3 linked regions of the Homo sapiens genome follow. The gene in region 2 interacts genetically with the main gene of each other region. Each region holds a gene or a part of one and is shown on either strand. Other genes may lie near its edges. The genes, in order: SEC23IP, EZH2 and CAND1.

Region 1 (3,655 bases), on a different chromosome or scaffold from region 2:
TGCTGCTGTGCCGGTGACTGCACTGAAGAAGGAACCTGGAGGGGACGGCAAAGTTAAGACTGTCATGCTTGTCCAAAAGAATTCTGAATATGCTTCACACCCAAACTGATGTTAGTAGATTATCCTACATGTATATCTGGACAATTACTTAGTGTAATAACTAGACCCCAAAGCAATTTTAAGAAGAATTTTTAAACCTAACAAAACCCCAAATCAAGGATAAATGCTTGAGGTGAGGGATATCTATACCCCATTTATCCTGATGTGATGATTACACATTGCATGCCTGTATCAAAATATCTCATGTAACCCATAAACATATATACCTACTATGTACCCACAAAAATTAAAAATTAAAAAATTTAGAAAAAAATCAATTACAAGGTGAACCAGACCTTCTCACAGAACACAAAGTAAACTAACACCTTTACAGAAATCAATCTAGCAATACATCTCCCATGATTTATTTAACCTTTTTTGTGTGTGTGAGGCGGAGTTTGCTCTTCTTGCCCAGCCTGGAGTGCAACGGCGCAATGCACAGCCTCCGTCTCCCGAGTTCAAGCGATTCTCCTGCCTCAGCCTCCCAAGTAGCTGGGATTACAGGCATGCGCCACCACACTCAGCTAATTTTGTATTTTTAGTAGAGACAGGGTTTCTCCAGGTTGGTCAGGCTGGTTGCGAACTCCCAACCTCAAGTGACCAGCCCGCCTTGACCTCTCAAAGTGTTGGGATTACAGGTGTGAGCCACCACACCCGGCCTATTTAACCTTTAAAATGTGCCTACTCCTTGACCTACTCATTCCATTTCTAAAAATTTATCCTAAAGATAGAATTATAAAAACAAATAGCCCAGGTGCAGTGGCTCACACCTGTAATCCTGCCACTTTGGGAGGCTGAGGTGGGTGGATCACCTAAGGTCAGGAGTTCGAGACAAGCCGGGCCAACATGGTGAAACCCTGTCTCCACTAAAAATACAAAAATTAGCTGGGCGTGGTGGCACAGGCCTGCAATCCCAGCTACTTGGGAGGCTGAGGCAGGAGAATCGCTTGAACCCGGGAGGCGGAGGTTGCAGTGAGCTGAGACTGCACCACTGCACTCCAGCCTGAGTGACAGAGACTCTGTCTCAAACAATAAATAAAAAATAAAAATAAAAAGTTATCCCCAAGGATATACATCAAAAGGTTATTTAAAATAGGAAATTGGTGTGTACAACTGTCAAAACTCAGCTAATTGTACACTTTAAATAAATCGAATTGTATACTGTAAATGGATGCCTTTTACTGTATGTAAATTATACCTCAATAATGTTGATTATAAAATCATAGCTAATAAATTTGGAATGTTTGCAAAAAAATAAATAAAATAGGAAATCACTGGAAATAATCAAAATGTCTAACAGAAACCTGATTAAATAATATTTAACTCAAATGCTAGATCCTCCAGCGCCATTAAAAATGTCTTATATCCTTTCTGCAGGAGATAGCTAAAAAAAAAAATAAGTAAATAAACAAAAATAAAAGTTTTAGAGGATAGACACGATGGTTCACACCTATAATCCCAGAACTTTGGGAGGCCAAGGAAGGAGGATCATTTGAGGCCAGGAGTTTGAGCCCAACATGAGCAACACAGCAATACCGTTTCTACAAAAAAATCTAAAAATCACACGGACATGGTGGGGCACACTTGTAGTCCCAGCTACTCCTGAGGCTGAAGTGTAGTTCAAGGTTGCAGTGAGCTGTAATCACACCACTGCACTCCACCCTGGATGACAGAGCAAGACCCCCCCCCCACTCTTTAAAAAAAAAAAAAAGAAGAAGAAAAAGAAAAAAATTTTAATGTTTTAGAAAAAATCTTAGTAACATTTAAAGTATGTTCACACAAAAAAAAAATAGATTATAGAAACCATAGGTATTATATGTTTGCCAAAAAAAGACATATAACAAAATGAAAACAGTGGTTATCTATGGACATTTTTTATTAAATTGAGTATTCTGCATTTTTCAAATTTTCTACAAAAACGATTTTAAAATCAGACTAGACTTATTTTAAAATTTTTTAATTAGACACCATTTTGGGACAGGTGTGGTGGCTCACACCTGTAATCCCAGCACTTTGGTAGGCTGAGGCAGGAAGATCACTTGAGGCCCAGGAGTTTGAGACTGCAGGTGAGCTGTGATTGCGCCACTGCATTCCAACCTGGACAACAGAGTGAGACCCAGTCTCAAAAAAATATATAATTTAGCCCATAATCCCAGAACTTTGGGAGGTCAAGGCAGGAGGACTGCTTGAGCCCAGGAGTTTGTGACCAGCCTGGGCAACATAGTGAGACCTCATTTCTACAAAACATAAAAAAAAAATTAGCCAGGTATGGCAGCATGTGCCTGTGGTCCCAGCTACTGGTGAGGCTGAGGTAGGGGGATCACTTGAACCTGAGAATTCGAGGCTACAGTGAGCCGTTACCATGCCACTGCACTCTAGCCTGAGTGACAGAGCAAGACCTGGCCTCAAAAAAAAAAATTTTATATATATATATATACACACACACACACACATACACACACACGTACATATACATACACATATATAATTTCTAAAAAATCATTTTGAAGTATTACATCAACACTCAATTTCCTGAGATTCATAGCTGCACTGTGCACATAAGAAGAATGTCCTTATGCTTAGCAAATGTACACCAGGAATTTAGGAGTAAAGAATCATAATGTATTTTACTGACCTTCAAATATTCCCCCCAAAATTGCATATATACAGAAAGAGAAAAAAACGATGAGGGGAAGGGAGGGAAGAGGGAGGGGCAGGAGGAGAAGCAGGAGGAAGGGGCAGGAGAAAGGGATGGGGGAAGAGGGAGGGCTCACATATGCCAGGGTGTGCACATGCACAAATTAAAAAACAAACGGGATGAAATGTTAATGATAAGTAAACCTGAGTAAAGGATATTAGAGTGCTCTTTGTACTCTTTTTATTTTTGCAACTTTTCTTCAAGTTTGAAATTATCATTTTTTAAACTTTTATCTAAAAACCTTTTTAAAAATTTAAGCAACAAACTACAATTAGTTTGTTATAGTTAGCAAAAATACTAACTATATACCACATGCTATGAATCTGGTTACTTTTCAGAATGCCGAAATCCAACATTGTCAAAAATTTGTGTATTGGTATGATTTAAATGAAATGATAAAACAGAGTCCATTCTCTATCTCTAACAGAGAAGTTAGTTACATTCTGATCACAATACTGCTATCTCCACCACACTGAAATGGGTTCTTAATTCTTTTTAATCATTTCTCTTTTTGTTTAATTCTGTTGATTTTTCTTTGGAAATCAAATAAACAATTAGTTGGGAAAAATGCATAAGGGAATTTCATGAAATTTACCCAATGCATACGTTATTCCACCAACTCTCCCTAGATAGAGTTTGACTGATCTAGATCCAAACTCCATAAAGAAATTACTGAAGTAATCAATTTTAGTCCCTGTAATTGAGTGTTTTGATTGACTAGTGTAATTGAAAGATGAGAAACTAGCAGTCTGTTAAGACAATAACCGCTTCAATTCTCCTATGTCTCTAGACAACACTTATTTTTACCGTACTCTAAAATCTGGAAATACTGACACGTAGCTAACTCATTAAAATCAG
Region 2 (3,655 bases):
TGATCAAAGAAGAAAAAAATAAAATTCAGGTTCCTTTAATACAACTTTGCCTGCCTCACACACACAGACACACAACACCCAGGCGACTGACTGGCCACTGGCACAGGGCCAGGTATGGGGCTCAATAAATACTTGTCAAATTGATGAGTTTCGTCAAGTAAACAAGGGAGTGCTCCCATGTTCTTATTTTTGATTTTTTAAATTGCTAACCAAAGACCTATTTAGTTCTCATGCAATTGCATCAAAGCAACAAATACTTACACTCTGAACTACATTGACAAAACTTTTCACAAAAATTTTGTGCTATCACACAAGGGCACGAACTGTCACAAGGCTGCCGTGGATGATCACAGGGTTGATAGTTGTAAACATGGTTAGAGGAGCCGTCTGAGTAAAGATAACATCATGCAGGCCAATGAATCCAGGGAGATGGAAACGATCATACACAATTAACACGAGTACATTCTTCCCTACTACCTGTGGAGTGTAGCTGGCCTGCCTTTACTGAATGCATAACATTACACATATTCCGGTTTCCACAACGATGGCAAAAAATACTCTCCCACCCCCAAGTGCTTATGAGTTCCATCTAAAGCACGGCTACATCTCAGTCCCATCCCAAAGCACTTCTCCTTCAACTGACTCGGACTCACACCTTCCAGTCAGCCTCCACTTTACAGAAGAGAATTGACTGGGGATTCATCAGTAGACGTCCTCCATTCAAATTGGTTTAACATACAGAAGGCAATTATATTAGAATAACCCAAGCTCTAATCCAGTTACTATTCTAAAACAAATGAAAACAAAGCAGATATTGTTAAGCTAATAATGAGAGGAATGGAAAGATGCTAACCCTTTTTCAGCTGTATCTTTCTGCAGTGTGCAGCCCACAACCTGCAAAAACACAAAGAAAATTAAACCAAATTTCTGCGGGAAGCTACAAATCCAACAGAGAGCTGCTTAACTGGATCTATCTGTGCCATGAATACAGGAATGCGTTAAAGCCAAGAGTCATGCCCTGCCCAGTTTATATTTGCCATCAGTTTGAAGCAACTCAAACAGCTTGATGGCTCAGGCTGCCCCAGGTGTGGCAAGACGTCATTTCCTGTGTTCATCCATGACTCCTGGTCAGAACTCCTGAGCTCCCAATGCTGCACAAAGCAGCAGGTGTGTCTGCCTGTTGATTTATTCTGATGTGGATGACACTGATCACTTCCTCTTATTTCAGGCATCATAAACCAAGCAAGTGAACTACGTGGTCAGAAATAATTCAACCAAAATTTCAGAAGCATCTCCTAAAGCCTAAAAAATAAAAATAAAAACTTGACTTTAAAAAAATTCTAAATTGGGTTGGCCCTACACTTATTTTTGTTAAAGTAAGAAAATGTAACATGAGCCTGTACACAATTTAAGAAGCATAATCTAACTGCACCCTTACCTACCCAATTAGGTTTCTCATTTTTAAAAATGTGAGGTAGAGGTATGGGGAGATTAGAGCAGATAGTCCACTCATCAATTTTTCTGGTTCTACATTTACAAATCAAATCAGCCTGAAAACATTCGCTAAGGTGAAAATAACATTCACACAAGCTTAAAGTAGGGTACCCATTAGGAGTATCGGAATGCAATGCCACACAACTTAGAAATTCAAGCTCCTGGAATAAAAGATACTTCTAAAAACTGGCCCAGAGCTCACATCAGAAACACAGAACATTTCATGATGTTAAAGTAATTGTTTACGTAACCTTTACTGCAAAAGCTACTAAATATGTTTTTCTTAACCCAAATGCAGTCTGGTAACCGTAATTTTTATGACTCTTAACATACCAAATATACTGAAGGCTGCTGTATTCTTATAGAAAAATACTAGCAATTCCCAGTGGAAATAAGATTCCATAGTTCTGTTTTTGATGGCAGTTTAAGGTTTTTTAAAAATAGACTAAGTAGAAACCAACAACAGCCCTTAGGAAGGGCCTTGCCTGCAGTGTCTATCTATGTTGACTTCTCTAAGGAGCTTCATGACAGACTCACCGGTGTTTCCTCTTCTTTTTCCTTGGAGGAGTATCCACATCCTCAGCGGGAGCTGGAGCTATGATGCTAGATTCTTTGACTCTAAACTCATACACCTGACAAGAGGCACAGTCACAGAGCCATGAGGACAGTCTTATTTAGGCAAACCATTCTTATACTCATGCATACCAGAAAAATGTCTTTGTCTCTTCTGTGACACTGCTAGATGCTGGGGATATAACACACATCGCTGTCCCTACCCTCACATTAGGGGTAGCTGTAATTATATTCTGGTCAAGAACTGTGATGCTAAATTTCAATTCTTACTAGCTTTTAAAAGCTACTGCTATCTAACCTTAAAAGTCTACATTGGGGAAATTCTGTAACATACCTGGAGAATAATTTTCATTCAATTCCCTCTTGGGAAGAAAAAAAAATTATTTTTAGGAGATGAATAGGAGCTTAGTAATAACCAAGAATTTTCTTTGTTTGGACAACGAGTACAGTTTTATCTCTATGTTTGAAGCTCTTTTAACAACATTTTTATCGGATATCTTACCTGTCTACATGTTTTGGTCCCAATTAACCTAGCAATGGCACAGAAATTGTCATAGTAAGTGCCAATGAGGACTCTAAACATTGAGGCTTCAGCACCACTCCACTCCACATTCTCAGGAGGTTCAATATTTGGCTTCATCTTTATTGGTGTTTGACACCGAGAATTTGCTTCTACAAAACCAAATGTAAGCACTGGTCAAGAAATGATTGGAAATAATATTAAGAAGTACAATTCAGGGTGTGCTTAAGAAAAAAGCGAAAAGATGAGGACAACTCAAATCCAATCGGCAAAACACTAACCCATCGTAGTTCACATTTTCCAACAAAACTACTCACAGAACGTCAAGAATATTAAACCAAATGATCCAAATTTCATTATTCCCTACCTGAGAAAGATCGAAAAAAGAAAATGGCACAAAGAATGAGAATAAAGTGCATCATCAGCTTTCAAACAACCAAGCAGGGCAAACACCACAAGCTAGGGTACGGGTGCAGGCAGGAAACAGAAACAACACAGCTACACATTCTTGAGATAACTCTGGTCTTTATACTGAAACTAACCAACTAAGAAAATTATTCAATGCATTATACATCCTTAATCCTCACAACACGAACTTTCACAGAACAGTAAAACCCAGTTATTAGACGTGTCTTACCAGAGGAGCTCGAAGTTTCATCTTTCTTCTCTTCTTCTTCTTTATCATTGTTCTCTCCCCCCGTTTCAGTCCCTGCTTCCCTATCACTGTCTGTATCCTTTGATTCCAGCACATTAATGGTGGGGGTGCTGGGCCTGCTACTGTTATTGGGAAGCCGTCCTCTTCTGCGGCCTCCTGGACGTTTTGGTGGGGTCTTTATCCGCTCAGCGGTGAGAGCAGCAGCAAACTCCTTTGCTCCCTCCTACGAAATGAAAAATGTCAACATCAGGGCAAAGTTCTAAAACTCATTTTGATGGAAGAGAAAAAAAAATACTATATAAGCCAGGTTAGTCAAAAAATGTATCACATTATCCATTTATCACAAATAATCATTTGCATGTCTAATATACTTGTTTTGATATGCTTTTGATAGTCTGAAAATTTCAGAAAGA
Region 3 (3,655 bases), on a different chromosome or scaffold from region 2:
GAGACGAACACACAGGAAAACAAAGAACACTTATATGCAAAATTCATTATCCAAACATAAGACGCAGTATGATTTCTCTCAAGTAGCTTCTACAGATTGTTTTGTATATCTGAAAAGTTCCATGTCCTATAACAAAATTCTTGATATTAAACACAGTATATTATATTGAAAAACAAAAATTCCTCATTCAGGTAAATGATACAGTTACAATTCAGACTAGCCCCAAAGGTAGCTCAGGAGACTTAATCAAGACAATGCTAAGAAAACCCTCCATGGGTAGCAACTATGGTCCAATGTTAAGACAGGCCAAAAAGTTACAGATTTATACTTTAAACAGCAAAATCTGTCGGGACTTTTTTGAGGGAAAGGATCTAGGGACTATTCACTAAGCAAGTGGGCACACAGCATTTTGCATCCACTGCCACTTCCTCCTCCAATAAAAAGGGCTCTGGATCTTTCTTACACGTCAACTGGTGTTACACTGCCTATTACTTTTGCACTTTATAGTTTACAATATGCTTATCAAAATCTTCACAGACAACCTGATTTTTCTCAGACACATGAGTAAATTACAAGGGTGAAAGTTGCTCTAGCAAAGTCTTCTTCTAAAACATTGTATAAATAGGCACAAACATCTTACCTTAATATCATAATGGTCCTTCAAACCATCTTCAACATGATTTAGAAATTCAAAGATATCAAGTCTATCAAGACAACTGTCTAGAAGTGTGTACATACACTCAAATGCTGCCTTTCTAATATCCAGACCATCATCAACCGTATGTTTAAATGGACCCATTTCTACCTGTTAAAGCAAAAAAGAACGTGTGGATATACAATACTTAAGTCAAAGACAAGCTCAAATAAACAGTGTGATCTAACTTACCTCTCTTATAAGCTCCTTTCTAACTTTTGTTTCATTGTAAAGATGTGGAAGAACAGTATCCAATAGATCCCTTATTAATGATGGCTTGTTATGTGCTGCTGAATTAAATGTGACCAAGGCTACTCTTCTCACATTCAAATCTGGGTCTTCCAAAGTTTTTAGGAAATCACCTGAAATATTACAAGAAAAGCAACAGACAGACATGATAAACTTAAAATACAATATACATTATATTTTCTCTAAGTTGATATAATTTATTTTTGCTGGTGTCATTGTTATTTCTTCAGTGACGGTCAGGGAAGAACCTGATGAAACACTAAGTGAACCATAACGTTTCTTTCAGCAGCAACGCAACTATCATTTCTGAAGGTGAATATATTTTCAATTGATAATCCACTCTCAGCACTTATAATGCAGAGGGTATGGAAGAAGAGTCCATAAAGTTCCTCAATATCACTTCTATAGATATAAGATATGACAGAGACAGAGCTAAAAAGACTAATCACATGCTTGATTCTCCTTGTAGTTCACTAAAAGCAGCAACAAAAATATTTTTAAACTAAGTTCAAAATAAGAATAAAAAAATGAAGTGAAGACAGACCCACTGCTTAATAAAGATGGAGTACTATTAGCAGATATACAATTAATCAAATGAAAGAGAAACGTGCCTCCAAAAGCCCTACTTTATTTCTGTCTTCAGTAAGAAATACACGAATTCACAGGAAAATAATATAAAAGGAGAAAATTGAAAGCTAACATAGGACAAAAGCCAGAGAAGCCATCTAGGTATTTTAAAAGTCTGCTTACTCTTGCAAATGTGGGCAAGAAAGTATAATGCAAAGATCTTTGGAGTCACATGGTTGGTGGTTCAAATCATTTTACTTGTTAAATGTATGATTTTGTGCAAGTTACTTTAGGCAAGAACCTCAGTTTCTCAGTCAATAAAATGAGGATTATAAACCTTTTAGAGCTATACTGAGCAGAATAAACGGCGCATATATTGTTGAAGACAATGTCTAGTACACACTAAGTATTCACATGTAGCTATTATTCATCATTATATGATCTCAACTCTATCATCAGCAATCTTTTAGAATACACAGGGAAATGTAGGAGAGATAAAAGACTTGAATGCCAACTTGAAAAACCTGCAATTTGAAAATATGGGAGGAAAGAGAGACTTCAGATACTGTAGATTGGGAAACCCAATGTTGATATCCAAGAAAGTTCCAGCACTGATTTAAAAAAAAAAGTCTGAGAAACAGCGTGGTTTCAAAAACAATATAAATGTACCAAACTAATCTCCCCTCCCCTTTATTTGCATACTAAACTGGTAGATTAGAAGAGTAATTACAATAGAGTATATATCCGCTTTCAGTAAAGCATCTAAAATATTGCTATTATGGACAAAATGGTGTCATGAACTAGCAATTTCAATTTTTAAAAAGTTTCCCAGGTGGTTCTGATGTTCAAATAGTCATGAATACTTAACTAGATCATAATTCAATTAGAATGCTAACTACCTGGCTGAGTAACTGTATCAACAATGCATACTGGTTGACTGCTGTCAACATGGAAAGATATTTCTAGAGATATGGCATGGGCCTCTTCCTCTGTCCTATTTTGCATAATACCAATGTCCTCAATAAACATATCAAAGCAGAAAATGTGTGGGGGAAATGCCAATAAGTTGTTTCTCATATAGACTTTAAATAATTTCTAGGCCCTAGCAATAGAACCCATTTGTGCCTGTGCTTTCCTTATTCTGAATTGGCAATCCCTTTCTATGCAGTTCAAATTTTATATTGTATTTTTTTTCTTTCTGGCACACTGAAGAATGGCACAAAGCTACAAAGCTTCTTTGCCAAATCCCTCAATCCTCCCTGATGGTTATCTCCATTATCCTGTCCTCAAGAAAGCAACAAACTAAATTCTGAGGTGTTTTTGGCTATTATCAAACTCTAGGAAAACCAATGATAAAAACAAAATGCAAGGAGGTTATAAAATCAGAAATAATCCCAAAAGCTAATTCTTGTCTTCACAGAAATAGAGAAGCCCTAGTTTTTCTTGGGTTATCTCCTCTTAGTTCTTCTGGGAATTAGCTCTCCCCCCCTTTATTTTTTATTCTTAGGTTATTTTGACCTTAAATATGGAAATCTCCATAGATCTCCTTGGGTGTTAGAAGTAATAATTGAAATTTGAGGCCTTAATAGCTCAAGCAAGACTCATTTAAATCTAGGGAGAAACTTCAGACTGGCCATATAAATCTAGTATCTTTTTGCTTTATCCACTAAAGCTATCTTAGGTCACCCCAAAAATATGGCTATCAAATATGTAGTTGACTCTAAAGACATGCTGGTATATTATAACTTCATTTATGTGCAAAATCATCTAGGAATAATTACAAACAATACAGGCAAATGCAATTTGTTAAAAGTTGTAAGATCATATCAATTTTCTTTTAAACAATTATTTTATAAGCATTTTAATTCCTCGATATTTCTAGTTACTAAGTTCAAGAGTTTCTTGAGAATTCTAAAGTCCAAAAATCAGTATGTTTATCTTTGTTTCCACTTACCTATGCAGTTCTTTAACAGTGGATCAATAGGTTGTGGATGGTCAGAAATTGTAAATTTCACAGCCGTAACCACTGAGCTTCGGGCATATGATGAGCCTAGTTAAAAATAAATTGCAAGTCTATTGGTATGTAGTCCACTAAAACTCACGGACATCATTTTTAAACCACTCCAAATAACACCAGTGTCTTCA

Evidence for each region.
Region 1: changes in EZH2 (region 2) and SEC23IP together harm fitness more than expected from each alone (negative genetic interaction), as found in Homo sapiens cells (one large-scale study listed by BioGRID).
Region 3: changes in EZH2 (region 2) and CAND1 together harm fitness less than expected from each alone (positive genetic interaction), as found in Homo sapiens cells (one large-scale study listed by BioGRID).

What each region holds. Positions count from the first base shown.
Region 1 is NC_000010.11:119,899,179-119,902,833, reverse strand, and holds part of SEC23IP (SEC23-interacting protein), read right to left. Parts: intron 36-3,655; coding exon 1-35. UniProt on the Homo sapiens protein: Plays a role in the organization of endoplasmic reticulum exit sites. Specifically binds to phosphatidylinositol 3-phosphate (PI(3)P), phosphatidylinositol 4-phosphate (PI(4)P) and phosphatidylinositol 5-phosphate (PI(5)P).
Region 2 is NC_000007.14:148,814,653-148,818,307, forward strand, and holds part of EZH2 (histone-lysine N-methyltransferase EZH2), read right to left. Parts: intron 3,466-3,655; coding exon 3,225-3,465; intron 2,740-3,224; coding exon 2,570-2,739; intron 2,127-2,569; coding exon 2,032-2,126; intron 1,303-2,031; coding exon of another isoform or gene 1,296-1,302; exon of another isoform or gene 901-1,295; intron 895-900; coding exon 854-894; intron 388-853; coding exon 262-387; intron 1-261. UniProt on the Homo sapiens protein: Polycomb group (PcG) protein. Catalytic subunit of the PRC2/EED-EZH2 complex, which methylates 'Lys-9' (H3K9me) and 'Lys-27' (H3K27me) of histone H3, leading to transcriptional repression of the affected target gene.
Region 3 is NC_000012.12:67,307,302-67,310,956, reverse strand, and holds part of CAND1 (cullin-associated NEDD8-dissociated protein 1), read right to left. Parts: intron 3,561-3,655; coding exon 3,465-3,560; intron 1,057-3,464; coding exon 887-1,056; intron 806-886; coding exon 641-805; intron 1-640. UniProt on the Homo sapiens protein: Key assembly factor of SCF (SKP1-CUL1-F-box protein) E3 ubiquitin ligase complexes that promotes the exchange of the substrate-recognition F-box subunit in SCF complexes, thereby playing a key role in the cellular repertoire of SCF complexes.